Homo sapiens: one gene and its partners. The protein of the gene in region 1 purifies or fractionates together with the protein of each later gene. This does not show direct contact. Each region holds a gene or a part of one and is shown in the gene's direction. Other genes may lie near its edges. The genes, in order: SIGMAR1, NPC1 and RNF185.

Evidence for each region.
Region 2: the proteins of SIGMAR1 (region 1) and NPC1 purify together in Homo sapiens (affinity purification with mass spectrometry; 3 studies listed by BioGRID and IntAct, with this or other methods). This does not show direct contact.
Region 3: the proteins of SIGMAR1 (region 1) and RNF185 purify together in Homo sapiens (affinity purification with mass spectrometry; 3 studies listed by BioGRID and IntAct, with this or other methods). This does not show direct contact.

The regions. Positions count from the first base shown.
Region 1 is NC_000009.12:34,633,488-34,644,553, reverse strand, and holds SIGMAR1 (sigma non-opioid intracellular receptor 1), read left to right. Parts: upstream 1-6,766; 5' UTR 6,767-6,856; coding exon 6,857-7,007; intron 7,008-7,133; coding exon 7,134-7,334; intron 7,335-7,441; coding exon of another isoform or gene 7,442-7,464; coding exon 7,465-7,557; intron 7,558-8,695; coding exon 8,696-8,922; coding exon of another isoform or gene 8,923-8,936; 3' UTR 8,937-9,832; downstream 9,833-11,066. UniProt on the Homo sapiens protein: Functions in lipid transport from the endoplasmic reticulum and is involved in a wide array of cellular functions probably through regulation of the biogenesis of lipid microdomains at the plasma membrane.
Region 2 is NC_000018.10:23,534,507-23,544,100, reverse strand, and holds part of NPC1 (NPC intracellular cholesterol transporter 1 precursor), read left to right. Parts: intron 1-531; coding exon 532-646; intron 647-2,667; coding exon 2,668-2,795; intron 2,796-2,892; coding exon 2,893-3,033; intron 3,034-3,563; coding exon 3,564-3,653; intron 3,654-4,099; coding exon 4,100-4,290; intron 4,291-4,630; coding exon 4,631-4,746; intron 4,747-5,429; coding exon 5,430-5,559; intron 5,560-7,224; coding exon 7,225-7,428; intron 7,429-8,400; coding exon 8,401-8,632; intron 8,633-9,541; coding exon 9,542-9,594. UniProt on the Homo sapiens protein: Intracellular cholesterol transporter which acts in concert with NPC2 and plays an important role in the egress of cholesterol from the endosomal/lysosomal compartment.
Region 3 is NC_000022.11:31,161,547-31,172,084, forward strand, and holds part of RNF185 (E3 ubiquitin-protein ligase RNF185), read left to right. Parts: intron 1-10,538. UniProt on the Homo sapiens protein: E3 ubiquitin-protein ligase that regulates selective mitochondrial autophagy by mediating 'Lys-63'-linked polyubiquitination of BNIP1.

The DNA.
Region 1 (11,066 bases):
GATCCCAGAGGTGTTGTTACAGTAAAGAGATCCCAATCCAGACCCCAAGAGAGGATTCTTGGATCTCACACAAGAAAGAATTCAAGGTGAGTCCATAGTGTGAAGTGAAAGCAAGTTTATCAGGAAAGTGAAGGAATAAAAAAATGGCCACTCCATAGACAGAGCACCCCTGAGGGCTGCTGGTTATCCATTTATATATATATATATATATATATATATATATATATATATATATATATATATATATATATAATTTTTTTTTTTTAAGACGGAGTTTCACTCTGTTGCCCAGGCTGGAGTGCAGTGGCTTGATCTCGGCTCACCGCAACCTCTGCCTCCCAGGTTCAAGTGATTCTCCTGCCTCAGCCTCCCGAGTAGCTGGAATTACAGGCACCCACCATCATGACTAGCTAATTTTTGTATTTTTTAGAGACAGAGTTTCACCATGTTGGCCAGGCTGGTCTTGAACGCCTGACCTCAGGTAATCTGTCCATCTCGGCCTTCCCAAAGTGCTGGGATTACAGACATAAGTCACCACACCTGGAAAGGCCTGGAAAAGCTTTCTGAAAGACCAGATAGGGGAGGTGTAGGCCCAGATGATCCCAGAAAGCTGTTCCTGGAATGGGGAGCAGAGACCAAATTTGGGGGCTAATCCCTGCTGCCCAGGGTTCTTAGTGAATTGTCGAGTCGGGAATGCCACAGAAGCCAGAACCAATACAAAAACATGTTCCCTCAATCCTGTATTCTCCTCTAGATAATCCTTTCTTTATCCTTAATTTCTCTGCCAAGTTTCTTTTTTTTTTTTTTTTTTTTTTTTTTTAGATGGAGTCTCGCTCTGTCGCCCAGGCTGGAGTACAGTGGTGCAATCTAGGCTCACTGCAACATCCGCCTCCTGATTCAAGTGATTCTCCTGCCTCAGCCTCCCCTGTAGCTGGGATTACAGGCGTGCACCACCACACCCAGCTAATTTTTGTATTTGTAGTAGAGACAGGGTTTCACCACGTTGGCCAGGCTGGTCCCAAATTCCTGACCTCAGGTGATCCGCCTGCCTCTGCCTCCCAAAGTATTGGGATTACAGGCGTGAGCCACCGTGCCCGGCCTGCCAAGTTTCTTAAAAACAGAGGCCATCTTTCTGGTCTCTACTCTTAGCTGCATGGTATATTGTAACACATCTTTTGCCCTATATTTGTCAGGGTAAGTAATCTTAATTGCTGTAACAAACACTCCCAAAACTCAATGGCTTAGCACTACAGTCAATTCTGGGGGTAACAGGGAGCTCTGTTCCAAGCAGTATTTAGGGATCCAGGTGCCATCCATCTAGTAGCTATGCCATGTCCTAGGGTCTCAGAATACTCCACTAGAGATCCTCTATAACTACAGTAATAGACATGGGAAGAAAGAAAATGTAAAGAACTTCAAGCTGGGCATAGTACTATGTGCCTGTAGTCCCCCAGCTCTTGGGAAGCCAGGGTGGGAGATCACTTGAGCCCAAGAGTTTGATACCAGTCTGGGAGTGACATAGCACAATCCTGTCTCTTAAAAAGAGAAAGAGAAAAAAAAAAAAAAGAATTTCAGAGGAGACTTTAGGAGCCAGCCCTAGAAATGTCATACATCATTTCTATCTATATTTCATTGGCCAGAATGCAATCACATGATCCAGAGTAGACTGTGGAATGTAATCTAGCTGTCCAAGAGCAAAAGGAAATGGATTTGTGAATGTATAGCATTGTCTCTGCCACATGCCCCTACTGAGAAGTCTAATGATCATTTCCCATCATCTCATTGAATCTCACCATTATATTTCACTGTGTTAACCCTTCATTCCATCACTCTTTTTTTAATTTTTTTAGATGGAGTTTCGCTCTCATTGCCCAAACTGGAGTGCAATGGCGTGCTCTCAGCTCACCATAACCTCCGCCTCCCAGGTTCAAGCGATTCTCCTGCCTCAGCCTCCCGAGTAGCTGGGATTACAGGTATGCGCCACCACGCCTGGCTAATTTTGTATTTTTAGAAGAGATGGGGTTTCTCCATGTTGGTCAGGCTGGATCTTGAACTGGCAACCTCAGGTGATTCCCCTACCTCGGCCTCCCAAAGTGCTGGGATTACAGGTGTGAGCCACCGTGCCTGGCCCATTCCATCACTCTTGAGAAAGAAAAGAAACTTTTTATCTGAGAAATGCCAGCCTCTTTTAATTATCAGGCCCAGAGAGGCATTAAAATGTGACAGCATGGGCCTGGCGCGGTGGCTCACGCCTGTAATCCCAGCAATTTGGGAGGCCAAGGTGGGCGAATCACGAGGTCAGGAGTTCGAGACCAGCCTGGCCAACATGGTGAAACCCTGTCTCTACTAAAAATACAAAAAATTAGTTGGGCATGGTGGCGGGCGCCTGTAATCCCAGCTACTCAGGAGGCTGAGGCAGGAGAATTGCTTGAACCTGGGAGGCAGAGGTTGCAGTGAGCCAGGATCATGCCACTGCACTCCAGCCCCGGCGACAGTGCAAGAGACTCCGTCTCAAAATAATAATAATAATAATAATAATAATTTTAAAAAGAAAAAAAAAGGCCGGGTGCAGTGGCTCACACTTGTAATCCCAGCACACTGGGAAACCAAGGCGGGCGGGATCACTTGAGGTCAGGAGTTTGAGACCAGCCTGGCCATTATGGTGAAACCCTGTCACTACTAAAAATACAAAAAGCTGAGCATAGTGGCAGGTGCCTGTAATTCCAGCTACTTGGGTGGCGGAGGCAGGAGAATCGCTTCAACCCGGGAGGCGGAGGTTGCAGTGAGCCGAGATTGCGCCACTGCACTCCAGCCTGGGCGACAGAGTATGACTCAGTCTCAAAAAAAAAAAAAAAAAAAAGTGACAGCATGTAACAGCAGTCATATCTCACCTTCCCCCACCCCCATGGAGCCAAATAATTACCCCTTGAAGCCACTTGCTATGTGGGCTCTAAATTGATACCACATAGCCATAAAATGCCATAGTCTAGACACCATAACTCATACCCTATAGTTCAACAAGGTATAGCCAATCACTAATCAATGTTGTTTCTGTAAGCCAATGAGAATTCCTGTTAAACAATTTTGTGTCAGCCCACTCCTTGTCCTCTTTTGCCTTTAAAAACTTGCTTGTGGCTGGGCATGATGGTTCATACCTGTAATTCCAGCACTTTGGGAGGCCAAGGCAGGATGATCCCTTGAGCCCAAGAGGTCAAGGCTGCAATGAGCTGTGATCGTGCCACTGAACTCCAGCCTAGGTAACAGAGCAAGATCCGGTCTCAAAAAATAAAAATAGGCCGGGCGCGGTGGCTCACGCCTATAATCCCAGCACTTTGGGAGGCCGAGGCGGGCAAATCACGAGGTCAGAGTTCAAGACCAGCCTGGCCAACATGGTGAAACCCCATCTCTACTAAAAATACAAAAAAATTAGCTGGATGTGGTGGCAGGTGCCTGTAGTCCCAGCTACTCGGGAGGCTGAGGCAGGAGAATTTCTTGAACTGGGAGGCAGAGGTTGCAGTGAGCCGAGATTGCGCCACTGCACTCCAGCCTGGGCGACAGTGGAGACACCATCTCAAAAAAAATAAAATTAAATTAAGTTAAAATAAAGTGGCCAGGTGCAGTGGCTCACACATGTAATCCCACACTTTGGGAGGCCGAGGAGTGTGGATCACCTGAGGTCAGGAGTTAGAGACCAGCCTGGCCAACATGGCAAAAACCTGTCTCCACTAAAACTACAAAAATTAGCCAGGCATGGTGGTGCACACCTGTGGTCCCAGCTACTCGGGAGGCTGAGGGAGGAGGATAGCTTGAACCTGGGAGGCGGGAGTTGCAGTGAGCCAAGATTGCACTACTGCATTCCAGCCTAGGCAACAGAGTAAGAATCCATCTCCAAGAAAATAAAAAATAAAAATAAAAACCACATATAAAAATAAAAAATGCTTGTATCAACATTCCCCAAGGCAACTTGGAAAAGTGTCCCGAGCAGTCGTTCTCTACCTTGGCCCAAATAAACTCTCTATATTAATTTTGCCTCAGCTTTTTTTTTTCCTCACTGTTGTTTTTGTTTGTGTGTTTTTCTTTTTTGAGACAGAGTCTCACTCTGTCGCCCAGGCTGGAGTGCAATGGTGCAGTCTCCACTCACTGCAACCTCCACCTCCCGGGTTCAAACGATTCTCCTGCCTCAGCCCCCCAAGTAGCTGGGCCAAGTGGGTGGCACGCGCCACCGCGCCCGGCTAATTTTTGTATTTTTTAGTAGAGATGGGGTTTCACCATGTTGGTCAGGCTGGTCTCGAACTCCTGACCACGTGATCCACCTGCCTCGGCCTCCCAAAGCGCTGGGATTACAGGCGTGAGCCACCCCGCCCAGCCTGTTTTGTTTTTTTTGAGACGGAGTTTTGCTGTTTCACACTGAGGCTGCAGTGCAATGGCGTGATCTCGGCTCACCGCAACCTCTGCCTCCTGGGTTCAAGTGATTCTCCTGCCTCAGCCTCCTGAGTAGCTGGGATTACAAGCATGCGCCACCACGCCCAGCTAATTTTGTATTTTTAGTAGAGACAGGGTTTCTCCATGTTGGTTAGGCTGGTCTCAAATTCCCAACCTCAGGTGATCCACCCGCCTCGGCCTCCCAAAGTGCTGGGATTGCAGGTGTGAGCCACAGTGCCCGGCCCCTTTTTCTTTTCTTTTTTTTTTAGAGACAGGGTCTCCCTCTGTTGTCCAGGCTGGAGTGCAGTGGCACGATCTTGGCTCATTGCAACATCCACCTTCTGGGTTCAAGCGATTCTTCTGCTTCAGCCTCCCGAGTAGCTGGGACTACAGGCACCTGCCACCACGCCCGGCTAATTTTTTGTATTTTAGTAGAGACGAGGTTTCACCATGTTGCCCAGGGTGGTCTCGAACTTCTGAGCTCAGGAAATCTGCCTGCCCACCTTGGCCTCCCAAAGTGCTGGGACTACAGGTGTGTGCCACTGTGCCTGGCCCTTTTTTTTTTTTTTTTTTTTTTTTTTTTTGAGGCAGAGTCTCCCTCTGTTGGCTCAACTGCAACCTCCACTTCCCAGGCTCAAGCGATCCTCCCACTTCGGCCTCCTGAGTAGCTGGGACTACAGGTGTGCGCCCCCACTCCTGACTAATTTTTGTACTTTTTGCAGAGATGGGGTTTCACCATGTTGCCAAGGCTGGTCTCGAATACCTGGACTCAAGTGTTCCGTCTGCCTCAGCCTCCCAAAGTGTTGGGATTACAGTTATGAGCCACCTCGCCCGGCCTCAGTTTCTTTCTTTAAGGTCAAAAATGTATGAGGCTACTTTTTTCCAGTTCCTTTATGTTTTATATATATAACCATCACATAAAATTCTCACCATGTGAGGCACTAACTGCTTTATAAATATTAACCCATCTAATCTCATCACAATGAAGATATGTACTATGAGGTAGGTACTTATCTCCATTCCATTTTACAGGTAAGAAAACTAAGTTACAGAGATTTTAAGTAAACTGCCCAAGATCAGACAACTAGTAGGTAGCAGGAGCCAGGCCTTGAACTCAGGCAGTCCAGCTCCAGAGTTTATTTCTTAATCACTGCACAATGCTACCTCTTTTCTCTTTTGTTTCTTTTCCTTTTTGCTTTCTTCTTCCTCTGCCTACCCTTTGCTGTTGGTGCTCTCCAGGGCTCTGTCTTTAGCCTTATCTTACTCTATTCTCTCTCCCTGTGAGATTTCATCCATTCTTAGAGGTTTTCTGTAGACTCTCCAGTGAGATCTCTAAGCTGGGGAGTAGGACCATTGTTTCTAGCCATATCCCTAATGGCCACCACAGAACTTGGCACATACAAGTGCCAACAAAGTATCTGAATGAATGACAACTCCCAGCTCTATCTCCAGACTGGAGCTGAGCTTCGAGACCTGGACACTCAACTGCCCACTAGACATGCAAAGGATGTTAGCCAAATAAGGGGAAAGTGGGGATAGGATAAAGGGGGAAAGAGTATTCCAGGAAGAAGAGATCAAGCCCTGCCAACTCCATTTCCAGAGTTGTTAAGCTCATTTCTTTCTTCCATCTCCACTGACACAGACCTTCCCTCTTACCTGGCCCACAGTCATGGTCTCCCTGACTCATCTTGCTCCCCTCCACTCGACAGTCCTGTGCCACTCGGTGGCAAAATCTAATCCCCTTCCTCCCTTGCTGATAACCCTCAGCTGGTTTACAAGGCCTCCTCTCACATTTTGTGCCGCAGAACAGAGAAGGAATTGTAGGCCCCTGAAGACCCCAAGCTGTCTCTCCTCGGAGGCCTTTGCTCTAGGGGCTGGTCCCTGTGGGCTGGCATGCCCCTTCTGCGAGCTCTTAAAGACACTGCTCAGGTGTCACCGCCTCTGGAATGCCCACCCTGGGGCTCCCAGCTTGAACTGCCTCCTCTCCGCTTCAGTCCTGGTAAAGGCGGGCCTTAACAATCGTTGAGTCCCAGAAGGCTTCACTTCCGGGCTCGTCTGCTTCACCAGCCAGTGAGCTCGGGCGAGCCCGTCCATTCTGGGTCTCACTATCCCCACACCTATCCGTATGTAGAGTGGCGCTAGCTAGGTCAGACCTCGCCTGAAGACCCTGACATCTGCCGCTGGGCGACTTGGCCCCGCCCCCTTGCCTCCCTTGCGCGGCACCGCCCCACTCCTCCGTGCTCCCCCCGAGGAAATGGTTCAACCGAAGGGCGGTGCCAAGGTGCCCGGGCCGCTCCGATTGGTCAGGGCGAGCCGTACCACGGCGGTGGCGGGGGAGCGCTTCGTGGGCAGCCGGCGGGCTCCGAGGCCGTGAGCGCAAAGCCTCAGGCCCCGGCTCCCTCCTGAGCTGCGCCGTGCCAGGCCGCCCGCCGGGATGCAGTGGGCCGTGGGCCGGCGGTGGGCGTGGGCCGCGCTGCTCCTGGCTGTCGCAGCGGTGCTGACCCAGGTCGTCTGGCTCTGGCTGGGTACGCAGAGCTTCGTCTTCCAGCGCGAAGAGATAGCGCAGTTGGCGCGGCAGTACGCTGGTGAGCGGGCAGAGGGCAGGGAGGGGAGCGGCCGGCCTGGGAGCGGAGCCTAGGGTTCCGAAGGCGCCATCCCCGGACCTAGGACCGGTGCCAGCCCTGACTCCGCCGCCCCTCTGCCTCCGCCAGGGCTGGACCACGAGCTGGCCTTCTCTCGTCTGATCGTGGAGCTGCGGCGGCTGCACCCAGGCCACGTGCTGCCCGACGAGGAGCTGCAGTGGGTGTTCGTGAATGCGGGTGGCTGGATGGGCGCCATGTGCCTTCTGCACGCCTCGCTGTCCGAGTATGTGCTGCTCTTCGGCACCGCCTTGGGCTCCCGCGGCCACTCGGGTCAGTGCTAGCGGCGGGCCAGACTGGGAGGCTGGGGTTGTAAAGGGGCCCATGCCCTCCTTTCTGATGTTTGGCTGGGCCATGCAATGGCGCGAATACCCTGATAGTGTCATGTGCGATTGTCACTCAGGGCGCTACTGGGCTGAGATCTCGGATACCATCATCTCTGGCACCTTCCACCAGTGGAGAGAGGGCACCACCAAAAGTGAGGTCTTCTACCCAGGTGGGTAAGAAGGCTCTGTCAGAGAAGTGGGTCCCTTCACGCGGGGGGTGCCCACAATTGCGGGGAGCATGGCATGGAAAAGGAGTGTGTTGGGGGGGCCCTCCTCATGGTTCCCTTCCTCCACCCTCCCATAAGCCACAGGTGATTGGTTGGGGCAGAGCTGAGGGACTCTTGCTTTCCTCTGTCAAGGGGAAACAAAACATAACAACTTCCTATTAAACATGTCTGATTTTTATCTGCCCAGGCACAATTTTGCCCAGACAGTATTCCAACAACTGTTGGGGAGACAATGGGTAATCAGAAATGCTCTCAATACCCCAAAAGACAAGACAGACAGTTATCTTTTTATTTGTTTGTTTTTTGAGATGGAGTCTTGCTCAGTCGCCCAGGCTGGCGTGCAGTGGCGCGATCTCGGCTCACTGCAAGCTCCGCTTCCCGGGTTCACGCCATTCTCCTGCCTCAGCCTCCCGAGTAGCTGGGACTACAGGCGCCCGCCACCACGCCCGGCTAATTTTTTTTGTATTTTTAGTAGAGACGGGGTTTCACCATACCAGCCAGGATGGTCTCGATCTCCTGACCTCGTGATCCACCCGCCTCGGCCTCCCAAAGTTCTGGGATTACAGGTGTGAGCCACCGCGCCCGGCCGCTCCCCTGCCTTTTTTTTTTTTTTTTTTTTTTAATAGTGAAACAATTTACTTAAGAAATAGAGCACTGGACTTCCCAGTATATTTGAGGTTGGGTGTATGCATCGCAGGCATGGTGGTTGAACAGCTACACTTTTCAGATAAAGCCTCACAAGTCCTGGAACTACCCCTTTCCTAGCTACAAGCCCAGCCCAGGTTTAGCTAAATTTCTGCTTGATTCGAGTGAGGCTTGGGAGTGCAGACTTCCATACAGTGGGTCCATGGCCAAGCGAGGTAGCCGTCCATGGCTTCTCCAAAGAGAGGACGTGGGTCAGATGATGCCACAGAACATTTAGGAGTGGCCATCTGGGCCAGCCCAGTGAGGTAGGGCTTTTTGTTTTTCTGAAGCTCCCTCTCCATTCCCCACCCCTAGTTAGTCCATGGGCCAGGGAAGCAGCAGCCATGGAAGGGCAGGGCAGAGCTGGCTTTTCACTTGGGTGCTCCCTGTCCCCCAGGGGAGACGGTAGTACACGGGCCTGGTGAGGCAACAGCTGTGGAGTGGGGGCCAAACACATGGATGGTGGAGTACGGCCGGGGCGTCATCCCATCCACCCTGGCCTTCGCGCTGGCCGACACTGTCTTCAGCACCCAGGACTTCCTCACCCTCTTCTATACTCTTCGCTCCTATGCTCGGGGCCTCCGGCTTGAGCTCACCACCTACCTCTTTGGCCAGGACCCTTGACCAGCCAGGCCTGAAGGAAGACCTGCGGATAGACAGGAGCGGGCAGGCCCGCACATATCCACTTGCTGGAGCCCATGTTTACAGACAGGGACATACACCATGCAGATCCTGAGTTCCTGCTGTATGAGCAGGGATATCCATGCTTATGTATCCAAACACAGAGACCCATGGGAACAAATGAGACACATATAGATACTGAGACCTGTGTGTACAGTAGGACCATGCACTCACACCCATCTGGAGAGGGAGCCCCCGGTATACCAAGGGAGCCAGTTGTGTTCAGACACACACATCACAGCTTGACTCACTAACTGAGGCCTTTCCATAGCTCCACAGCTTCCCACCTCCTCCCCACCAAACCGGGGTTCTAGAGTTAAGGATGGGGGAGGGTATTATACTGCCTCAGTCTGACTCCTCAACCCAGCAGCAATTTGAGGGGATGAGGGGGAAGAGGAGCTGCCTTTTGGAGGCCCCCTTCACCTGCAGCTATGATGCCCTTCCCCTTCTCCCCTGTCCTCACCATATGCCTTATCCCCATTCTACTCCCCTGCTATGCAAGTGCCCCTGTGGCTTGTCCCCAACCCCCTCAGCAACAAAGCTCAGCTGGGGAACGAGAGTAATTTGAAGAATGCTTGAAGTCAGCGTCTTCCATTCCAGAAAGACCCCCATTCTTCCTTTGGGGGTATGATGTGGAAGCTGGTTTCAGCCCAGGACCCACCACTGAGGAGAGGATCTAGACAGGTGGGCCTAATTCCAAGGGGCCCTTCCTGGCCTGGAGAAGGCCTTTTACACACACACAACACATACACACACACACACACACACACATATCACAGTTTTCACACAGCCCCTGCTGCATTCTCTGTCCATCTGTCTGTTTCTATTAATAAAGATTTGTTGATCTGTTCCATCTTTTTGTGTGTCTGAGCAGCCGGAAAAAGCCTCTGACCCCTGGGGACCTCAGGAAGATCTCTCTCTTGCTGTGTGATTCATGGTAGATTTTTTTTTTTTTTTTTTAAGAGATGGGGTCTCCTCTGTTGCCCAGGCTGGAGTGCAGTGGCACAGTGACATGATCATAGCTCCCTGCAGCCTTGAACTCATGGTCCCAAACAATTTTCCTGCCTTAGCCTTATGAGTAGCTGGGACCTTATGAGTAGCAAATGCCACCATGCCTGGTTAGCTTTTTAAATTTTTTTTAGAAATGGGGTCTTGCTATGTTGCCCCGGCTGATCTCCAGCTCCTGGCCTCAAGTGATCCTTCCTCAGTCTCCAGAGTAGCTGAGATAACAGAAACAAGCCACCATGCCTGACAAGACAGTGGCTTTTGACTAGTAGGGACTATATACTTGAGTGTGCCTTAGAATCACCTAAGACACTCTTTGAGTCAGTAACTCAGACTACTGAGCTCCATTGCCAGAGATCAACATGTTCAATAAGATTTCTTCCAACACAGCTGCGAATGCCACAATTTGAGAAATTCAGGGCAGGGTGACCTGGAGTGTGTCTTGGTCTTACCTCTGCCGGTGCAATCCTGGGAACAGTCCTAAGAATCTTCCCCTGGCTGACCACAGGGTGGCAGTGTGCACCCACTTTTTAGCTGAAAGGCATAGTTCTCAGTTGGCTTTTTTTCTGGGCTCCCAGAGTAGTGTCTGCCCCCACCCAAAACAGGAGATCCTCCAGTCTATGGTCTGCCTTCTCCAGGACCCACCACTAATGTGGAGGCTCCCACAATGAAAGGAAGGCACACTACCTGGCAGTATGTGAGGTAGGTAGGGCCTGGACTCAGGTAAGGCAAGAGAGGTGCCTAAAGTGCATTCATTCCCAAAGACCCTGCTCTTGCCTTAACTTCTGCATTTTACACACCAAGCATGCCTCACCCTCGTCCTGGCCCTGTTCTGAGGGTAAGGCATAGATCACTCCTGCTTCTCAGGATTCCTGGTATTTTAAAAATGGAAGAAACATGGTTATAAAAATTAGATATTTTAACATTCTAAAGAACACAAATCCGAAAGACTATATGTATAACTGCATTTAGAAACAACATCAAAAGTCAATTTGTGACTGAATGTGGAGTCCAGGTAAGTTGGCCAACCTGAAACCGACTCTTCACCCCCAATACCACCGTGTCAGGCATAGTAGGCCCTG
Region 2 (9,594 bases), on another chromosome or scaffold:
TGTCTTTTAATAGTATCTTTTCATTTTAAATAGTATCATGTGTACAAGAAGGGCTAACACACTTTTGGAAAAGATTTTGGGTACGACTGCTGTTAAAATGATGTTCAGCATAGTATAGAATGTTAGATTCATTTTGCCCAAAGGTGCCACTAAAAAGGCAAAAGGTCAACACGTGTCCCGCTGCTGTAGAAGGTGGTCTCAGTCGTCCTGTAGACCCGACGTGGGCGGAGACTCAGTGCACGTGAGAGTGATGTTCACTGGTCCAGTCCCCTGCCGCCTGTGTTCCGAGTGTTTTCCTGATAATGTGGCTGGCTCAGCTTTCCCTTTAGTTTCTCACTTGGTACCTAGCTCTGTAGTGCAGAAATACTCTGAGAACATTGGAGTCCCCCACCGAAGTTTATATGCTTAGAAGACACTGCTAATCGTCTACTAATCATTTATTTTTACCCTTGAGTTAACACAAGGCAGCAAGAAATGGCGTTGTTATTGAGAAATTTTAATGTCGCATAATTTTTTTTTTTTTTTTTTAAGAGAGATGAACGTCTTCAAGGGGAAACCCTGGATCAGCAGCTGGGCAGGGTCCTAGGAGAAGTGGCTCCCAGTATGTTCCTGTCATCCTTTTCTGAGACTGTAGCATTTTTCTTAGGTAATTATGCTTTCAATCCTACCAGTCCTGTAGTCTGCTGAGCCTGGAGAAAGAAGGAGCTGGCTACCTGAACATGTCCCTTTGTGTTGCTTCCTTTTTTTTTTTTTCTTTTTTTTTTTTTTCTCTGAGACGGAGTCTCACTCTGCCACCCAGGCTGGAGTGCAGTGGTGCAATCTCGGCTCACTGCAGCCTCCGCCTCCCGGGTTCAAGCGATTTTCCTGCCTCAGCCTCCCAAATAGCTGGGATTAAAGGCACGTACCACCATGCCCAGTTAATTTTTTGCATTTTTAATAGAGATGGGGTTTCACCATGTTGGCCAGGCTGGTCTCGAACTCCTGACCTCAGGTGATGTACCTGCCTCGGCCTCCCAAAGTGCTGAGATTACAGGCGTGAGCCCCCGTGCCCAGCCCGTGTTGTCTCCTTTTTTTAAGCTTTGTTCTGCACTGGGAAAGTATCACTGGACCACAGAAAAATTGGCAGCAGTAACTTAGGTGTGATTTTGCAAGTGGCTTCCTTCTCATTTAACTGTCAGGACAGCATTGATGTTGGGGTTCAGGGTGAAAGAGACCTAGAGTTCGTCTTGCCACTTTCCCCTTTTAGTAGCCACTGGGAATGTTGATAGTTGAAAATGGCATCCTTGAGTAGCCACTGAATCCTTCTCCACATGACACTCTAAGCAGCAGCTCCCAAATCCACAGGCACTCGCTTACAAGATGTTTGCCGTTGTTTTCAAAGGCAGTCTTTCTCTTCTGTGCACACAACTCATTGGGGAAGCAGCCTTGTTAATGACCAGAAGCTCTTGACTCACCACATTACAAGGAGCCAGAATAAGCTGGAACAAAGTCAGCACTTCTGTGTTTCTTTCACATAGAGAATCATCAAATAGACCCACTAGTGGGGCTGTCTGCCCCATGTCTGAAGTGTAGTAAGAGCAAAGTGACTCTGTCCACTATAGGGGAGGCTGGACTGGAATCACTCAGTCCAAAGAAGACCATCCACGGGCCACAAACTGCAATGCCTACATGGCTGGGAGGTCAGCTTAATCAGGGCCATTGTAAGGTCATTGTAGGTGGTAGTCTTTCACCACAGATACACTGCTAGCTTGTTATTCTTCATCTCCACAAAGCCATGTGCTTTTGAAACCTGTAGCCCTGTAGTTCCTTTTGACAAACACAGGTGCAGAAAAAAAAAAAAAAAAGAAAAAACTTTCTTTTTTTCACTACTATTATAAGAAAACCAGTGCAAGTGTGATGATAATAGCAGCAGAGACTGTGCCTCAAGGTTGGAGTGACCTTGGGACAGTAGGAGTGAGTAGGGATTGTGGCACCCCAACTGCACGTGTCCTATCTAAAAAGACAGTTATGTGTGTGGCCAACCCAGTGCTACAAGGTCTGTGTTGTTGTTGTTGTTTTTCTTCCAAGCAAAGCTGTGAATCTAGATTTTTGTGTAAAATGCCATTGTTAAATATTGGCAACTTATAAAAAAAAGTTTTTTAATCTTAAGATGGGTTGATACAGTGTGGGCTAAACAGGAACCATCTGATTCATGGGCTGCCAGTTTGCAGTTTCCAAGTCTTACCCTCATGCCTTTGATCCTCACTCGATTGTAGATTACCTCTTAACTAAACTGGGAGGCTAGTAGTGTTGATGTAATAAATGGAAAATACTGTCCATTTCTTACAGTGAAGCACAGAAAGTACTATAAGAAATGGCCTGTATTAGTGGTTCTCAAATTTTAATGTGTGTGAATTTGCTGTGAACCTGAGTATAGTAGAATTGGGGTTGAATTCCTGTCATAACTAGGATGGGGCTTCCCAAATGGTCTGGTGCTGAGTGTGCTTTGAAAAGCACTGGCTTATCACCTCCTGTCCCACTTCTGGTGTAATGTCCAGCCGCAGCATGCCTTCTCATGCGTTTGGCCTGTGCTGGCTCCTTGTATCTGTACATGCACATGAACATAAGACCTGCAGAGAGCCCCCGGCTGTAAACAGAAGTGACGCAGAGCCCTTCTCTCCCCGACAGGAGCATTGTCCGTGATGCCAGCCGTGCACACCTTCTCTCTCTTTGCGGGATTGGCAGTCTTCATTGACTTTCTTCTGCAGATTACCTGTTTCGTGAGTCTCTTGGGGTTAGACATTAAACGTCAAGAGGTAAGTTGGTGCCAGGATTATAGTCTATTTAATTTGAGTCTAGAATCTAGAGGAAGCAGCTAGCGGGTATAACCTTTGTTTCCCTCTGTCCCCTCAGAAAAATCGGCTAGACATCTTTTGCTGTGTCAGAGGTGCTGAAGATGGAACAAGCGTCCAGGCCTCAGAGAGCTGTTTGTTTCGCTTCTTCAAAAACTCCTATTCTCCACTTCTGCTAAAGGACTGGATGAGACCAATTGTGGTATGCGCTTATCTGTGGTTTTTCTCTTTCCTCTCACTGAAACAGATTATCACATGCCTTCTAAGAAGCCAGACAGCCTGGGAAGGAGATTCTTAAAGCTGTTAAAATGTATCTAAAAAAAAAGCAAAAGCAAATGTGGAACAGTAGATAAAATGTTTTTCCTGTGAGCTTTTATCAGTCCATATAAACAAGAGTTTTAAGTTTTTTATTTTGAAATAGTTTCAGATTCACAGAAAGTTGCAAAGAAACTTTTATTTTTCCTCTTAATAATGAGGAAATAGAAGCCAAGAGAGGTGAAGTGGTTTGCCCCAAGTCACTCAGCCCGTAAGTGGCAGAGTCAGGATTTGCACCCAGGAATTTGGACTCCTGGTGCTGTGGTCTCACCCACTGCCCTGTACTCCCTATTAGCCTGTCATTTAAGCTTTTCCATTTTAAAAAATCCTGCTTTTTGTGTGTGCTTAAGATTTTATTTCTGGTCGTAAGCTTATTTACTAAGCAGTCTCTGTCTTATGATTCATTTGTTGTTCCAGATAGCAATATTTGTGGGTGTTCTGTCATTCAGCATCGCAGTCCTGAACAAAGTAGATATTGGATTGGATCAGTCTCTTTCGATGCCAGATGTAAGATGACTTCCTTTTTTTTTTTTTTTTAACTTCTTTAGCTGATGATGAATACATTTTTCAAAACATGCACGTAGGTGTTTCAAGCAAGTGCCTGCTTCTAACTGCAAATGGTGACAGGGTTTCCAGGGTTAGGAGAACTGTCGCAGTGCACTGCTGGTGTGGGCTGTCTGGCATTCTGACTGAGCCCCTCTGGGCACAGCTGCAGAACACGAATAACTAGTCTTATGAGGTTACTTTATGAGATGCTCTCCTGATTGTGGGGCTAGCAGGAGGAGCACCCTGGGGCCCTGGGGGGAAGACTGGTGGTGTTAGGAATCATGAGTCCAGCTGGAGGCATCTCAGCCAGGAACCTCCTGGCACCCTCTTATTCTCCATGATCCTCGCCTTGCTTAGTTACTATCAGAGTGTTCACACTCTCTCCTATTCTTTTATCTTTCTTTCAGGACTCCTACATGGTGGATTATTTCAAATCCATCAGTCAGTACCTGCATGCGGGTCCGCCTGTGTACTTTGTCCTGGAGGAAGGGCACGACTACACTTCTTCCAAGGGGCAGAACATGGTGTGCGGCGGCATGGGCTGCAACAATGATTCCCTGGTGCAGCAGATATTTAACGCGGCGCAGCTGGACAACTAGTCAGTACCACCTTGTCTTGTACTTCAGAAGCAGCGGAGGAGGCTCTCAGCCAGGCAGTCAGCTCAGGCCTGAAATGTCTCACTGAAAATAGACTTTCTTGGAAAAGTTGTTTTTATGCAAAATGTATGTTAAATCTGGCTTTACCTTAAAAAACCTTTGAAAGGACTAATTTACCACCTAATACTTTGAAGGCTTTTTTCATTAAGTGCTCATGTAGTTTTTCTTTTGACTGTTAGCAGTATAAAACGTAGAAAAGGAAGTTAGGTTTTAAGAAAAAGTACTGAAACTAAAGACTTCCTCCCTGTGGAGCAGGTCAGTAACCCTGTCTGTCCTCTCTAGTACCCGAATAGGCTTCGCCCCCTCGTCCTGGATCGACGATTATTTCGACTGGGTGAAGCCACAGTCGTCTTGCTGTCGAGTGGACAATATCACTGACCAGTTCTGCAATGCTTCAGGTACCTTCTCCTTTACCAAATCTTTCCTGTTTTGCTGAAAAATTTTCAAATTATCATTTAAAAATCATTTGCATCGTGCCTCAGTTTATACCTATTTGTATATCAAAGCTGGGTCTCCCTGTGTCATCATTCCTTTCCTCAGTCATTCATTCTGAAATTGTCATGTTGTTCCTGGCTCAGACAGCCACCCTCGGGGCTGCAAGCTGAACAAGGTCCACATGTTCGGAGTGTGGTTTCCACATAAGGTTTCTCATCCTGTTCTAACTCCAGCGATTGCCTCTCAGGATTGGTATCTGGCCTTAGCTTCTCAGAGGAGGGCTTTTCTTTATCACTTTACCCTGTGGTTTTGTAGGAGCGTCGAGGTTGCCCTGGAATTTTCTTAATAAAAACATAGAAGCCCCGGGCTCTGACCAGTCAAGGCCATACTTGAAGGAGGAGATCTACTTCAGGGCAGAAAATGATGCATAGTATGCCTAAGATGAAAATGGTATTTCAGATTCATTAAACTGTGAAAGTGACATGTGGCTGAAGCTTTTAGATAAGGGGAAAGATTATCCCTCACTAGTAAGGAAAGTAATCGATAGAGAAGAAAGTAATGCCCCTCACTGTCAGTATTTTAAAATGTTTTACAAAAAATCTGGAGACCTATTCTTCTAACAGTCCTCCCTGCATGTCTCCGCCAGTGGTTGACCCTGCCTGCGTTCGCTGCAGGCCTCTGACTCCGGAAGGCAAACAGAGGCCTCAGGGGGGAGACTTCATGAGATTCCTGCCCATGTTCCTTTCGGATAACCCTAACCCCAAGTGTGGCAAAGGGTAAGTGCTGCTGCCATTGCAGATAAGCATCCACTGCAACTTTAATTTGCAGTAGAAAACTAGGAGAGGACTGGGCTAAGACAGTTGCATGGGAACGTCTCTTCTCCGCCCCACCCTGTCCTGGTCCTTTGGTGGAAGCAGGAAAACCGAAAACACCTTTTTAAGAAAATGCCTCATAGTGTTCAACTGATTCTGTCTTAGCGTGGGCATTCACATCTCATGCTCTCTCTGTGTCCTGGCCCCCTGGGCATGAGAATGAACGCAGATTCCTGTGCACATTCCAAGCGGGGCTGAGGGAGAGGACGGCCTGCTGGTAATCCAGGCCTGAAGGAACTTGGCCTGTTCACTTGTACTGATGGCAGCTGGGGCGTGATCTTAGCTTTAGTAACATTATCCCACATTAAGGTTGCGATTCTTTTAGCCTCGTCATGCTCCTTGCCAGCCCATCCATGTATAGGGTTATGGGCTATCTCACTCCCCCATCCAGCCAGGCAGCCAGTTACCCACGGAAGCCAGATATATGGCCCAAAAATAGTGATGATGACCGGAAGTCTCTGGCCTTGATTTGGAAGCTTTGGGAGGTGGAAGATGAGTATCCCCATGTATGTTAGGTAAACCCTGAACTTAGGTTTTTCATAAGAACATACATCTGACCAGAGTCATATCAGTGAATCATTTATATCATGCATGTGCTTTGAGACCTATTCGAGGTATCATGGGATGACTCCTCCTAAAAGTTAAGTAGAAATGAATCTTGCAGCTTGATTTACTCACTGACTGGATGCTTTGGCCTACGTAAAATAAGTTGAAGTAGATTCAGTTTTTCTGAAGGCAGTAGCCACCGTTCCTGGGGAGCCTCCAGGGTGCCAGCGTCATGCCAGGCACTCCCTGACATTATTCCATTTCTCATCACGCAGCCTATGAGTAGGTGGTGGTATACCCATTTACAGAAGAGGAGACTGGGGCTCAGAGGTGGTCATTTTGCTCGGGGTTACATGACCAGTAAGTGGCAGGGCTGAGGTTGTTCCCAGGGCCCTTGCCCTTTCCTGCTTCCTATTACACAACAGGACTGAGTAAACCCTGTACCTTTGATTATACATGAAACCAGGTGGAGAAACAGCAGCTATGTACCAAAGAACCCAGAGCAATCGAGAAAAGCCCATCTGGCCAGGCGAAGTGGCTCACACCTGTAATCCCAGTACTTTTGGAGGCCGAGGTGGGCGGATCACCTGAGATCACCTCAGGAGTTCAAGACTAGCCAGGCCAACATGGCAAAACCCTGTCTCTACTAAAAAAATACAAAAGTTAGTTGAGCGTGGTGGCAGGTGCCTGTAATCCCAGCTATTCGGGAGGCTGAGGCAGGGAGAATTGCTTGAACCCGGGAGGTGGAGGTTGCAGTGAGCCGAGATCACGCCACTGCACTCCAGCCTGGGCTACAGAGCAAGACTCTGTCTCAAAATAAAAAAAAAAAGAAGCCAGTCTGGGAGAGAACAAGCTAAACCTTTGGTGTTCCCTTATCTGGGGGCCTTCTTCATCCCTGAAATGTACAGCTGGGTCTGACCTCTGAGTCCAGGGTCAGGTGATTTTGCTTAGCCTCAAGTGCTCAGATTCTGCTGATATTTTGCAAGACCTGGACTCTCTTGACACCCAGGATTCTTTCCTCAGGGGACATGCTGCCTATAGTTCTGCAGTTAACATCCTCCTTGGCCATGGCACCAGGGTCGGAGCCACGTACTTCATGACCTACCACACCGTGCTGCAGACCTCTGCTGACTTTATTGACGCTCTGAAGAAAGCCCGACTTATAGCCAGTAATGTCACCGAAACCATGGGCATTAACGGCAGTGCCTACCGAGTATTTCCTTACAGGTAAAGCCTGCCCTTTTTCAATGGGGTTTACCCAGCAAAGGGCCTACACTGGGTGGGAGTGGGGAGGGTTCCCTTGGCAAGATGCTGATTTTCAGGTTGGGTTCTGGCCCCTGCTCCATTCTGAGCACAGGGCAGTATATCAAAGGAAATGGGTGCTGGGCAAAGGAGTTCAGAATCTAAAGTCTCTGTGAAGGCCTGAGGGCTAGAGACGCAAAACTTGATCTCTGCGCCACTGCACAGCTGCAAGAGACACACACTGGAAAATGGCTTAAGGCAGGGGGCGCTTGGAGAGCAGGCGGCTCAGAGCAGGGCCCGGCCCACATTCTTGGCCAACAATGAACCAGAATCCCTAACTGCTGGTTATTTGGGATGCTGCCTGTATGTAGACTTTTTATATTGTTAGGGGTTTTTTTTCCCAGGAAGAAAAGTATTATGTATGAACTACTGAATTTAGAAACTGTAGAAAGGTAGGAGAAACAAGTGATTTATTTTTCCTGCCTCCCCATGATCTCGCTTAAAGCAGGAAGGCCTGGATTTGTTTGGAAGAAGTTAAGAGCCGGTTAGCTCTGGCAGAAAATAAATGAAAGCATGTTTTCCTCAGGCCTTGCACGGACCCCGCTGAGCCTGAGGTAGTGTCTCAGGATAGATCAGGATTCTTTGTTTTTTTGTGTTTTTTCAGAATGCTGTGGAATGCTCTCTGTAAATGTCTATAAAATAGCATAGATTGGGCTTATAAACAGAAACTTTATCAAAAATATACATTTTGCATCACTGCTGGGCCCTTCTCTGGGTGGTCAGTGGCCATGAGAGGTCAAGTGAGTTGCTTTCGGTGAGTCTTGTAGACAGCCAGCAAGGTTTTCTGCAAGGGATGTTTCCCAAAGGAGTCTGACCACTTGGCAGTGGTGACAGGATGAACACGCAGTGTTCGGGAGTGAGAGCGAGCTTTAATGAGGCCTCCCCTCTCCCCTCCAGTGTGTTTTATGTCTTCTACGAACAGTACCTGACCATCATTGACGACACTATCTTCAACCTCGGTGTGTCCCTGGGCGCGATATTTCTGGTGACCATGGTCCTCCTGGGCTGTGAGCTCTGGTCTGCAGTCATCATGTGTGCCACCATCGCCATGGTCTTGGTCAACATGTTTGGAGTTATGTGGCTCTGGGGCATCAGTCTGAACGCTGTATCCTTGGTCAACCTGGTGATGGTGAGTCCTCATACAGTCTCAGTTTGTCCCTAGCTCCTGTTTCACTTGGGGGAATTGGCTGTCTTAGATTCCATGTAAACCCTAAAGATGGAGTAAGATACCAAGTCTGGCGCTTGCTCTTGGCACACATGGAGAGGCAGGATGAGTGCTGGAGGAGTGCTGGATGGTGGTGGGACAGGGCATAGAGGGAGCGAGCATTGAGTTGGACATCTGGGAGCATAGGCACATTACAGGCAATTTCTGTTCAATTTTTTCTCTTGTCCCATTCCTTGCGGCTATACTAGTATACCTGATGGTGCCTCTGACCATGGAAATGTGATTTCCTGGCCTAGTTCTGGGCTAGTCTGCCTGTAATTTGTTATTCTTTAGAGATTGCACAAGCCTGTAGCCTGATGACAGCAGGATGTTCACTTTTTACTTAGAAAATTGCACCCCGCCCCAGGAGCTCTCCGACCAGTGCCTTTTGCCTCCTATGTGGTTATCAGGTACTTTTAATCATTAAAGATGAGAGCACTTGAGAAGGTATTCATGGAAAATAGAACAGTGTATCCGTACTCTCAGATATGAGCCCTGCTTCAGATAGGGGAGCACTGAGGTCCAAGAAAAGAAGTTGTGACAATGCGCCAGCTCGGTGCGGGTGGGGTGACCTTAACGGGTTCCAGCAATTTCTCCTGGTCAACACAAACGTGCCACAGAAAACCAGGCTTTTGGCTGTGTGTAGAGAGGGCCCCAAAAAGTTCCTGGTACAGTAAGATTGGTGTGATGGAGGCCTTGTAAGTCCAATGGGATGCTTGGCCTCCTCTAGCACCCAGGGTGCCCTGGGTAATTAGCACCCATCCTCAGAACGGGGTGGCTGCCTAGGGTCTTCAACAGGAAGAGAGCCATCCTAAAGGAAGTGCTTTATTTCAGAGCTGTGGCATCTCCGTGGAGTTCTGCAGCCACATAACCAGAGCGTTCACGGT
Region 3 (10,538 bases), on another chromosome or scaffold:
AATAAGTAAACTGGGTCCCACCCCATGGGTTAGTAGCTTTTTTCTAAGAACAAGTTGGAAATGCCTCTGAAGATTTTATGTTTGACCAGGAGAAGCCAGTGAACTCTGAATCACAAAATTGAGGACTCTCAGTTGAAAGCACCCCTTGAGGTTGTTCAGACCAGCCTTCTCTTCCCTGGAACATAATCCCTGCTTGAATCCTCTCTTCAGCAATATGTGTATAGATGTGAGAGAATTTTTGCAGTCTGTTGGCTAGCTTTCCATGCATCATATAAAAACAGTCCTCTTATAGACTTGACTTGCCAGTTCACACACATGACAAGTTCCAGCTTTTTTTTTTTTTTTTTTGAGTATTTAGTAGAGATGGGGTTTCACCATGTTGGCCAGGCTGGTCTCGAACTCCTGACCTCAAGTGATCCGCCTGCCTCAGCCTCCCAAAGTGCTGGGATTTCAGGTGTAAGCCACTGTGCCTGGCCTCTAGCATACCTTTGGTTTTCTAATCAAACATTATTATGTCCTTATTTTGTGCATTACAAAGCTCTGCCTAAATCACTTTTTCAACACCTGCTAGAATGCTTAGGAATGTTTATGTTGTCTTAGGGAGCAGAGGCTCCATATTATGACCCAGTTCTGCTGACTTGCTCCCCCGCCGCCACAAAAGTTAGGGTTGAGCCAAAACTTCCTGCCAGTTATCGACTTGTGTTTCCCAAGATTAAAAAATAAAAAAGTTGTGAAATGCTTATTCAGATGTTATCCAGGTACTGGGTAAAATGATCTTAATTTGTTGGAGTTTTTAGAACTTCTCGATCTAAAAGTTTCCTTTTAAAGAAGTGTCTGAATTGACATTCTCATAAGTATGTTCTTCAGGCCACTGGTCTGAAGAAGTGGCTCTGAAAAAAGGATTTGATGCTAATAATAAGTTTGAGAAAGCCACATACCATTATTCTTTCTTGGAGCTTCTCAATGTGTAATACCACATTAAAACCACTGAGAGGTCCTGCAATAAGGAAATGTGCCTTATAAGCCAAGATAATAACTTGTTCCATTTGTTTAATCTACTTGATGTCAAATCTTTTTTTTTTTTTTAATTGAAGCACACGTTAGCAAATTCTGACCTAGAGTGGGGATCTGCATACTATATATAGGCTGTGAACCAAACCTGGACCTACTGCTTGTTTATATGGTCTGTGAGCTAAGGGTGCTTTTTACATTTTTCTTTCTTTTTTTTTTTTTTTTAAGACGGAGTCTCGCTCTGTTGCCCAGGCTGGAATGCAGTGGCTCCATCTCAGCTCACTGCAAGCTCCGCCTCCTGGGTTCATGCCATTCTCCTGCCTCAGCCTCCCGAATAGCTGGGACTACAGGCGCCCACCCCGATGACTGGCTAATTTTTTGTATTTTTAGTAGAGGTAGGGTTTCACTGTGTTAGCCAGGATGGTCTTGATCTCCTGACCTCGTGATCTGCCCGCCTCAGCCTCCCAAGGTGCTGGGATTACAGGCGTGAGCCACCACGTCTGGCCTGCTTTTTACATTTTTAAATGATGGGAAATAAAAGAAGAATAATATTACATAGGTGACAATTACAGGAAGATAAAATTTCAGTGTTCATTTCAGTCACACCCATTTATTTATATTCATATATATTTACATATTGTCTTTGGGTGCTTTAATGCTACTCAGTGGAGTTGATTACTTCCCATAAAAACCATATGGTCCACAGAGTCTGAAGTATTTACTCTATGGCCCTTTATGGAAAAAAAATTGCCAATTCCTGACCTGCATCGTGTACATTTTTTTTTTTTGAGACAGTGACTCGCTCTGTTGCCCAGGCTGGAGTGCAGTGGCACGAACATAGCCTACTACAGCCTTGACCTCCTGGGCTGAAGCCATCTTCCCACCTCAGCCACCCGAGTAGTTGGGACTACGGGCACACACCACCACACCCAGCTAACTTTTAGGTTTCTTGTAGAGATGAGGTCTCACTATGTTGCCCAGGCTGGTCTCAAATCTCCGAGCTCAAATGATTCTCCTGCCTCAGCCTCTCAAAGTGCTAGGATTACAGGTATGAGCCACCACTCCCAGCCATGTATTGTTTTTTAACTTTTTATTTTATTTTATTTATTTATTTATTTATTTATTTATTTATTTGAAACGGAGTCTCACTCTGTCCTCCAGGCTGGAGTGCAGTGGCGCAATCTCGGCTCACTGTAACCTCCACCTCCCGGGCTCAAGCAATTCTCCTGCCTCAGCCTTCTGAGTAGCTGGGACTACAGGTGCACGCCACCTTGCCTGGCTAATTTTTGTATTTTTAGTGGAGACGGGGTTTCACCATGTTGGCCAGGATGGTCTCAATCTCCTGACCTCAAGTGATCCACCCACCTCAGCTTCCCAAAGTGCTGGGATTACAGGCTTGAGCCACCGTGCCTGGCCCCTTATTATTATTATTATTATTTTTTAGATGGAGTTTCACTCTTGTTGCCCAGGCTGGAATGCGGTGGGACAGTCTCAGCTCACTGCAACCTGTGCCTCCCAGGTTCAAGCGATTCTCCTGCCCCAGCCTCCCAAGTAGCTGGGATTACAGGCATGTGCCACCACACCTGGCCAATTTTTGTATTTTTAGTAGAGGTGGGTTTCACCGTGTTGGCCAGGCTGGTCCTGAACTCCTGACCTCAGGTGATCCACCCGCCTTGGCATCCCAAAGTGCTGGGATTACAGCCGTGAGCCACTGCGCCTGGCCTTTTTATTTTGAAATAATTTTACTCTTATACTAAACTTGCAAAAATAATTCACAAACTTTCTGTATATCTGTCATCTAACTTCACCTAATGTCAAAACTGTACATAATTATATCAGAATTATCCAAACAAGAAATTTAACATTAATACAATATTACTAGCTAATCTAGAGACTTTATTCAGATTTTGCTATTTGTCCCACTGTGTCCTTTTTCTGTTCCAGGACCCAATCCTGGATCCTACATCACATTTAGTTGTCAAGTCTCCCTGGTCTCATCAGATATCTGGGACAGTTCCTCATTGTCTTTTTTTTTTTTTTTTTTTTTTTGAGACGGAGTCTCACCCTGTCACCCAGGCTGGAATACAGTGGCATGATCTCAGCTAACTGCAACCCCCCTCCCGGGTTCAAGCGATTCTCCTGCCTCAGCCTCCTGAATAGCTGCAATTACAGGCGTGTGCCACCATGCCCAGCTGTTTTTTGTATTTTTAGTAGAGTGGGGTTTCACCATGTTGGGCAGGCTGGTCTTGAAGTCCCAACCTCAGGTGATCCACCTGCCTCGGCCTCCCAAAGTTCTGGGATTACAGGTGTGCCACCACACCCGGCCTGCATTTGCACTAAAATTTATTTTTTTTTTAATTGTTTGTTTTTGAGATGGAATTTCACTCTTATTGCCCAGGCTGGAGTGCAGTGGCGCAATCTTGGCTCACCGCAACATCTGCCTCCCAGGTTCAAGCGATTCTCCTACCTCAGCCTCCCGAGGAGCTAGGATTACAGGCATGCACCACCACGCCCGGCTAATTTTGTATTTTTTTTTTTTTAGTAGAGACAGGGTTGCTCTATGTTGGTCAAGCTGGTCTGGAACTCCCGGCCTCAGGTGATCTGTCTGCCTCAGCCTCCCAAAGTGCTGGGATTACAGGTGTGAGCCACTGCGCCTGGCCATTTGCACTAAAATTTATGAGGGTTCCAGTTTCTCCGCATCCACAACACTTGTTATTGCCCACTAAAAAAATTATATCTCTCCTAGTGGGTGTGAAGTGATATCTCATTGTGGTTTTGATTTGCATTTCCTTAATGGCTGATGATGATGATGATGATGTTCTTATTGGCCATCTGCATATCTTATTTGGAGAAATGTCTGTTTAGATCTTTTGCTCATTTTGTAATTGAGTTATTTGTTATCGTGTACAATTTTGAATGTAGGTATTCAAAGAGTTTGCAGATCTCTTGAAATAACTCAGTGATTTGACCTGCAAATTCTGAGGCAATGCCAGTATGTCCCTGATCTGAATGTAGTTGGATTTGGACATACTAAAGCACAAAGTAAATTTCCATTTGAGGCTACTGACCATGCAGAGCTTGACTCAAACCCAGCCACTTCTGGCCATGTGGAGTTGGAGTGGCCATGGGCAAGTGAAAGGAAGGGTACTATTTGCGTCCAGAAATGAGGTTGTCATCCAAGATATGATAAGACTAGTCAGGGAGCCTTCATTTTGGGTGCCACTCTGCTGTATGTCTGGTTATAGGCAGGGAGTAGAGGAGTCAGTGGTGGTTTGAATGCTCAGGACTAGCTGCTCATAGCTACATAACTACAGTGCTCCTAGGCCTATCTTGACCCTACAGCATTTGGCCATAACCAAACCATCTTGGACACATACCTTGAAACAAACAAAAGCTTCAGTAATGTAAATTGTGAAAGTAGTATGTGCTTATTTTATTATTATTTTTTTTTAGAGATGGAGTCTTGCTCTGTTGCCCAGGCTGGAGTGCAGTGGCACAGTGTTGACTCACTGCAGCCTCCATCTCCCAGATTCAAGCAATTCTCGTGCCTCAGTTCCTGAGTAGCTAGAATTACAGGCAAGTGCCACCATGCCCGACTAATTTTTGTATTTTTAGTAGAGATGGGGTTTCATGATCTTGGCCAGGCTGGTCTCGAACTCCTGACCTCAAGTGATCCGCCCACCTCAGCCTCCCAAAGTGCTGGGATTACAGGCATGAGCCACCATGCCCTGCCGATGTGCTCATTTTAGACATTTTGGGAAATACAGAAAAATCTCCCTCTCCCCACCCTAGTCATCCCTAGCTCTAGTATCTAGAGAACCTTTGTTGCAGTTGCTATATTTCCTTCTTGTTTCCTGCTACGGGGCACATTTTTAATAGTTGGAATCACTCACTGTACACAGGTCCATATCTTGCTTTTTCTTATTAACATCTAAAACTGAAGAAAACACACACTTTAATTTTAATGTCTCCATGTTTTTGCCAGCCTCTTCTATAAGCATTTCTTCTTCTTCTTCTTCTTCTTCCCCTTCCCCTTCCCCTTCCCTTCCCCTCCTCCTCCTCCTCCTTCTTCTTCTTCTTCTTCCTCTTCCTCTTCCTCTTCTTCTTCTCGAGACAGAGTCTGGCTCTGTTGCCCAGGCTGGAGTGCAATGGTGCGATCTTGGCTCACTGCAACCTCCACCTCCCGGGTTCAAATGATTCTCCTGCCTCAGCCTCCCGAGTAGCTGGGATTATAGGTGCCTGCCACCATGCCCAGCTAATTTTTGTATTTTTGGTAGAAACGGGATTTCACCATGCTGGCCAGGCTGGTCTCGAACTCCTGACCTCAGACGATCCACCCACCTCAGCCTCCCAAAGTGTTGGGATTACAGGCGTGAGCCACCACACCTGGCCTATAAGCGTTACTTCTGATGGCCTACATAGATTTCCATTTCCTTAACTGTTCATTTATTTAATAAGTCTTACTATGTAGACGTAATGTGTATAATAAGTACTTGGTGTGTTCTTAGTGGGATAGAAATGTAGTTTTGATTTTTAAATAAGGAGCATAGATTTTCTTAAAATTTTTTTTATTGTGGTAAGATGTACATAACAATATTTACTGTTTTAACTAATTTTATCTATTTAAATTTTTTTTGAGATAGGGTCTCACTCTGTGGCCTAGGCTGAAGTGTAGTGGCAACTCACTGCAGCCTCAACCTCTGAGGCTCAAGCAATCCTCTTGCCTCAGCCCCCTAAAGTGCTGGAATTACAGCAGTGAGCCATTGTGCCTGGCCCATTTTAATTATTTTTAAATGTACAATTCAGTGGCATTAAGTAAATTCACAATGTTGTATAACCATCACCACTATTTCTAAAACTTTTTCAGCATACCAAACAGAAACTCTACCCATGAAGCAATAACTCCTCATTCTCTCCTCCCCCCAGCTCCTGGTAACCTCTGATCCACTTTCTATCTGTATGAATTTGCCTATTCTGGATATTTCTAATAAGATTCTAATAAGAAAATCACACAATGTATGACCTTTTATGGAAACGTAGGGGGGTTTTTTCCTTTTTTTTTTTTTTTTTTTTTGAGACAGTCTCACTCCGTTGTCACCCAGGCTGAGTGCAGTGGTGTCATCTCAGCTCACTTCAACCTCCGCATCCTGGGTTCAAGCAATTATTGTGCTTCAGCCTCCCAAATAGCTGGAATTACAGGCGCTCACCACCACACCTGGCTCATTTTTGTATTTTTAGTAGAGATGGGGTTTTGCCATTTGCCCAGGCTGGTCTCGAACGCCTGACCTCAAGTGATCCGCCTGCCTTGGCTTCCCAGAGTGCTGGGATTATAGGCATGAGCCACCGTACCTGGGCCCAGTTTTTTAAATTGTAGTGAAATTCATATAAAATTTACCATCGTAACCATTTTTTTAAATGTACAGCTCAGTGGTATTAAGTACATTCATGTTCTAGAAACATCACCACCATCTACCTCCAGAACTGTTTTCATCTTGCAAAAGTGAAACTCTGTGTCTATTAAACAATAACTCCCTATTTCTTCTTCCCCCTAGCCACTGCCAACCACTATTCCACTTTCTGTCTCTATGATTTTGTTTACTCTAAGTACGTCATATAAGTAGAATCATACAGTATTTGTCCTTTTTATTTTTGAAGATGAGGCCTAACCGTGTGGCTGGTGTCAGACTCTTGGGTTTAAGTGAACTTTCTGCCTCAGCCTCCCAAGTAGCTGGGGTTATGTGTGGGCACCACTGCACCCAGCTTAGTATTTGTCTTCCTTTGACTGACTTACTTCACCTAACATGATGTTCTTGAGGTTCATTTATGTTGTAGCATATGTGAGAATTTTTCTTCCTTTTTAAGATAAAATGATTTTCCGTTGTATGTATTTTGCTTATCCATTCATCTGTCGATGCAAACTTGGATTGCTTCCATGTTTCAGCTATTGTGAATACTGCTACTGTGAACATTGATGTATAGCTATTTCTTTGCGACCTTGCTTTCAATTATTTGGGTACATACCTAGAGGTAGAATTGCTGGATCATATGGTAGTTCAGTTTTTAATTTTTTTGAGGAGCCTCTGTGCTGTTTTCCACAGCAGCTGTACCATTTTACATTCCCACCAACAGAGCACAGGGGTTCTATTTCTCTACATCCTTGCCAAAACTTGTTATTTTCTGGTGTTATAAAAATAGTAGTCATTCTGATGGTATCTCATTGTGCTTTTGATTTGCATTTCCCTGATGATTAGTGATGTTGAGCACCCTTCTGTGTACTTTTGGGACATTTGTATTTCTTCTTTGAAGAAATGTCTCTATTCAAGTCCTTTGCCCCCCCGCCCCACCACCACCCTTTAAAAATTTTTTTTGAGACAGAGTCTCTCTCTCTCTTGCCCAGGCTGGAGTGCAGTGGTGGAATCTGGGCTCTGCAACCTCCACCTCCTGGGTTCAAGCAATTATCTTGCCTCAGCCTCGCACGTAGCTGGAAGTACAGGCGTGTGCCACCACACCTGGCTAATTTGTTTTGTATTTTTAGTAGAGACAAGGTTTCACCATGTTGCCCAAGTTGGTCTCAAACTTCTGACCTCAAGTGATCTGCCTGCCTAAGCCTCCCAAAGTGCTGGAATTACAGGCCTGAGCCACCATACCTGGCCCCACTTTTGAATCAGGTTGTTTGTTGTTAAGTTTTAGGAGTTATCTATGTATTCAGGATATTAATTCCTTTTCAGATATATGATTTGCAAATATTTTCTCCCATTCTGTGAATTGCCATTTTACTCTATTGGTAGTGTCTTTTTATGCACAAAATTTTTAAATTTTTATGAAATCCAATTTGTCTACTTTTTCTTTTGTTACCTGTACTTTTGGTGTCATTCCAAGAAATCATTGCCAGAAATATAGTTTTTAAAGTCATGACCAAGTGGCTCCTGGTTTAAAATTCTCAGAGGCGGCCCTAATTGCTGCCTGGTTATCATACCCTACTTCTCTTTTTTTAATTTTTAGTTTTTTAAAGACAGGGTCTCTCTGTCGCCGAGGCTGGAGTGCAGTGGCGTGATCTCAGCTCACTGCAACCTCTGCCTCCCGGACTCAAGCAGTCCTCCCACCTTTGCCTCTTGAGTAGTTGGGACCACAGGCATGCGCCACTGCTCTTGGCTAATTTTTGTATTTTTTTGTAGAGATGGGGTTTTGCCATGTTACCCAGGCTGGTCTCAAACTTCTGGGCTCAAGTGATCTGCCTGCCTCCACCTTCCAAAGTGCTGGGATTACTGGCTGAGCCACCACACCCAGCCTTCAAACCGTACTTCTCTACTCTGCATCTGCTGTAGATGACAGGAGTCCATCTCTTCATTTCATTGGTCGTTGGGAACAAAGCTCCCGAGTGTTGGATCCTTGTCTTCCAGCTGGCCTAAGGACATGCAAAGATTAGAAGCAGCACTTCTATGTTCATTGAGCCAGATTGTGTCTGCTTCTGTGGAAATGGCCTAGGGGACTCACTGGCCATTCTGTCCTGGGTCCAGTTGCCAGGTTAATTCCTGTGATAGTTTCTATAGCACCTGACTCTGATACTCGCTCTCTTAATTGCTCCTCAGAAGTGCCTTGTGATGTAACAGTGATGTGGTTTTTTGTTTTTTTTTTTTGTTTGTTTGTTTGAGACAGAGTCTTGTTCAGTCGCCCAGGCTGGAGTGCAGTGGTGCAATCTCTGCTCACTGCAAGCTCCGCCTCCCGGGTTCATGCCATTCTCCTGCCTCAGCCCCCCGAGTAGCTGGGACTACATTTGCCTGCCACCAGGCCTGGCTAATTTTTTTCGTATTTTTAGTAGAGACGAGGTTTCACCATGTTAGCCAGATGGTCTCGATCTCCTTACCTTGTGATCCACCCGCCTTGGCCTCCCAAAGTGCTGGGATTACAGGCATGAGCCACCACCTCTGGCCAGATGTGGTTTTTATTTTTTATTTATTTTATTTATTTATTGAGACAGAGTCTCACTCTGTCACCCAGGGTGGAGTGCGGTAGTATGATCTCAGCTCACTGCAACCTCCACCTCCAGGGTTCAAGCGATTCCCATGTCTCAGCCTTCCAAGTAACTGGGATTACAGACATGTGCCACCACACCCAGCTAATTTGTATTTTTTAGTAGAGATAGGGTTTCACCATGTTGGCTAAGGTGGTCTCGAACTCCTGACCTCAGATGATCCACCCACCTTGTACTCCCAAAGTGCTGGGATTACAGGTGTGAGCCACCACGCCTGGCCAGGTTTTTATTTTTTAATATTTATTTATTTATTTTTGAGACAAGGTCTTTGTATGCTGCCCAGGCTGGTCTCAAACTCTTGTCCTCAAGCAATCCTCCTGCCTCAGCCTCCTGAGTAGCTGGCATGTTCCACTGTGCCTGGCATGTGGGGGTTTTTAAAGATGGACAGGTCTCTGAATACAGGAGTGGATCCTGGGCAAAGCCTAAGGAAGTTTGTTGTTTTTTCTTAACACTATCATCTCTGCCAAGGCACTTCTTAGTGTGAGAAGCTTTTTGTTTTTTAATAGTTACATTCTGACTTGGTTATAAACTCCTTGAGCACAGGAACCAGGACCTTCTCTGATTTACTTATTTATTTATTTATTTATTTATTTATTTATTTTTGAGACAGAGTTTTGTTGCCCAGGCTGGAGTGCAATGGCGCCATCTTGGCTCACTGCAACCTCCGCCTCCTTGGGTCAAGTGATTCTCCCGCCTCAGCCTCCCTAGTAGCTGGGATTACAGGCGCCCACCACTATGACCAGCTAATTTTTTTTTTTTTTTGGTGTTTTTAGTAGAGACAGGGTTTCACTATGTTGGCCAGGCTGGTCTTGAACTCCTGACCTCAGGCGATCCACCCGCCTTGGCCTCCCAAAGTGCTGGGATTACAGGCGTGAGCTACTGCACCCAGCCCTGATTTATTTTTATCATGGGTCTGGTAGTTGGCATTCTCTAAGTGTTTGCCAAACAGCACTGGTAACAAATACAATGGAGGTGGCTCAAGGCACAAGAGCAATTTGTAAAAGTCAATATTATAGACTTTTCAAAATGGTATCATTTTGGTTTTATCTTTAATCACAGTTGGTCCTAGTCAGGACCTTCTGTTGAAAGAAGTGAGAGGCTGGGCATGGTGGCTTGTGCCTGTAATCCCAGCACTTTGGGAGGCCGAGGCAAGCGGATCACCTGAGGTCGGGAGTTTGAGACCAGCCTGACCAACATGGAGAAACACCATCTCTACTAAAAATACAAAATTAGCCAGGTGTGGTGGTGCATGCCTGTAATCCCAGCTACTCAGGAGGCTGAGGCAGGAGAATCGCTTGAACCTAGGAGGCGGAGGTTGCGGTGAGCCAAGATTGCGCCATTGCACTCCAGCCTGGGCAACAAGAACGAAACTCCATCTCAAAAAAAAGAAAGGAGAAGTGAGATCATTGTTTTGTCAAGTATATACCGGGTATTAAAATTTAAAAAGTTTTCTACTTAATTGGTTAGATCTTGTCAAACTTATTGTTTTTATACT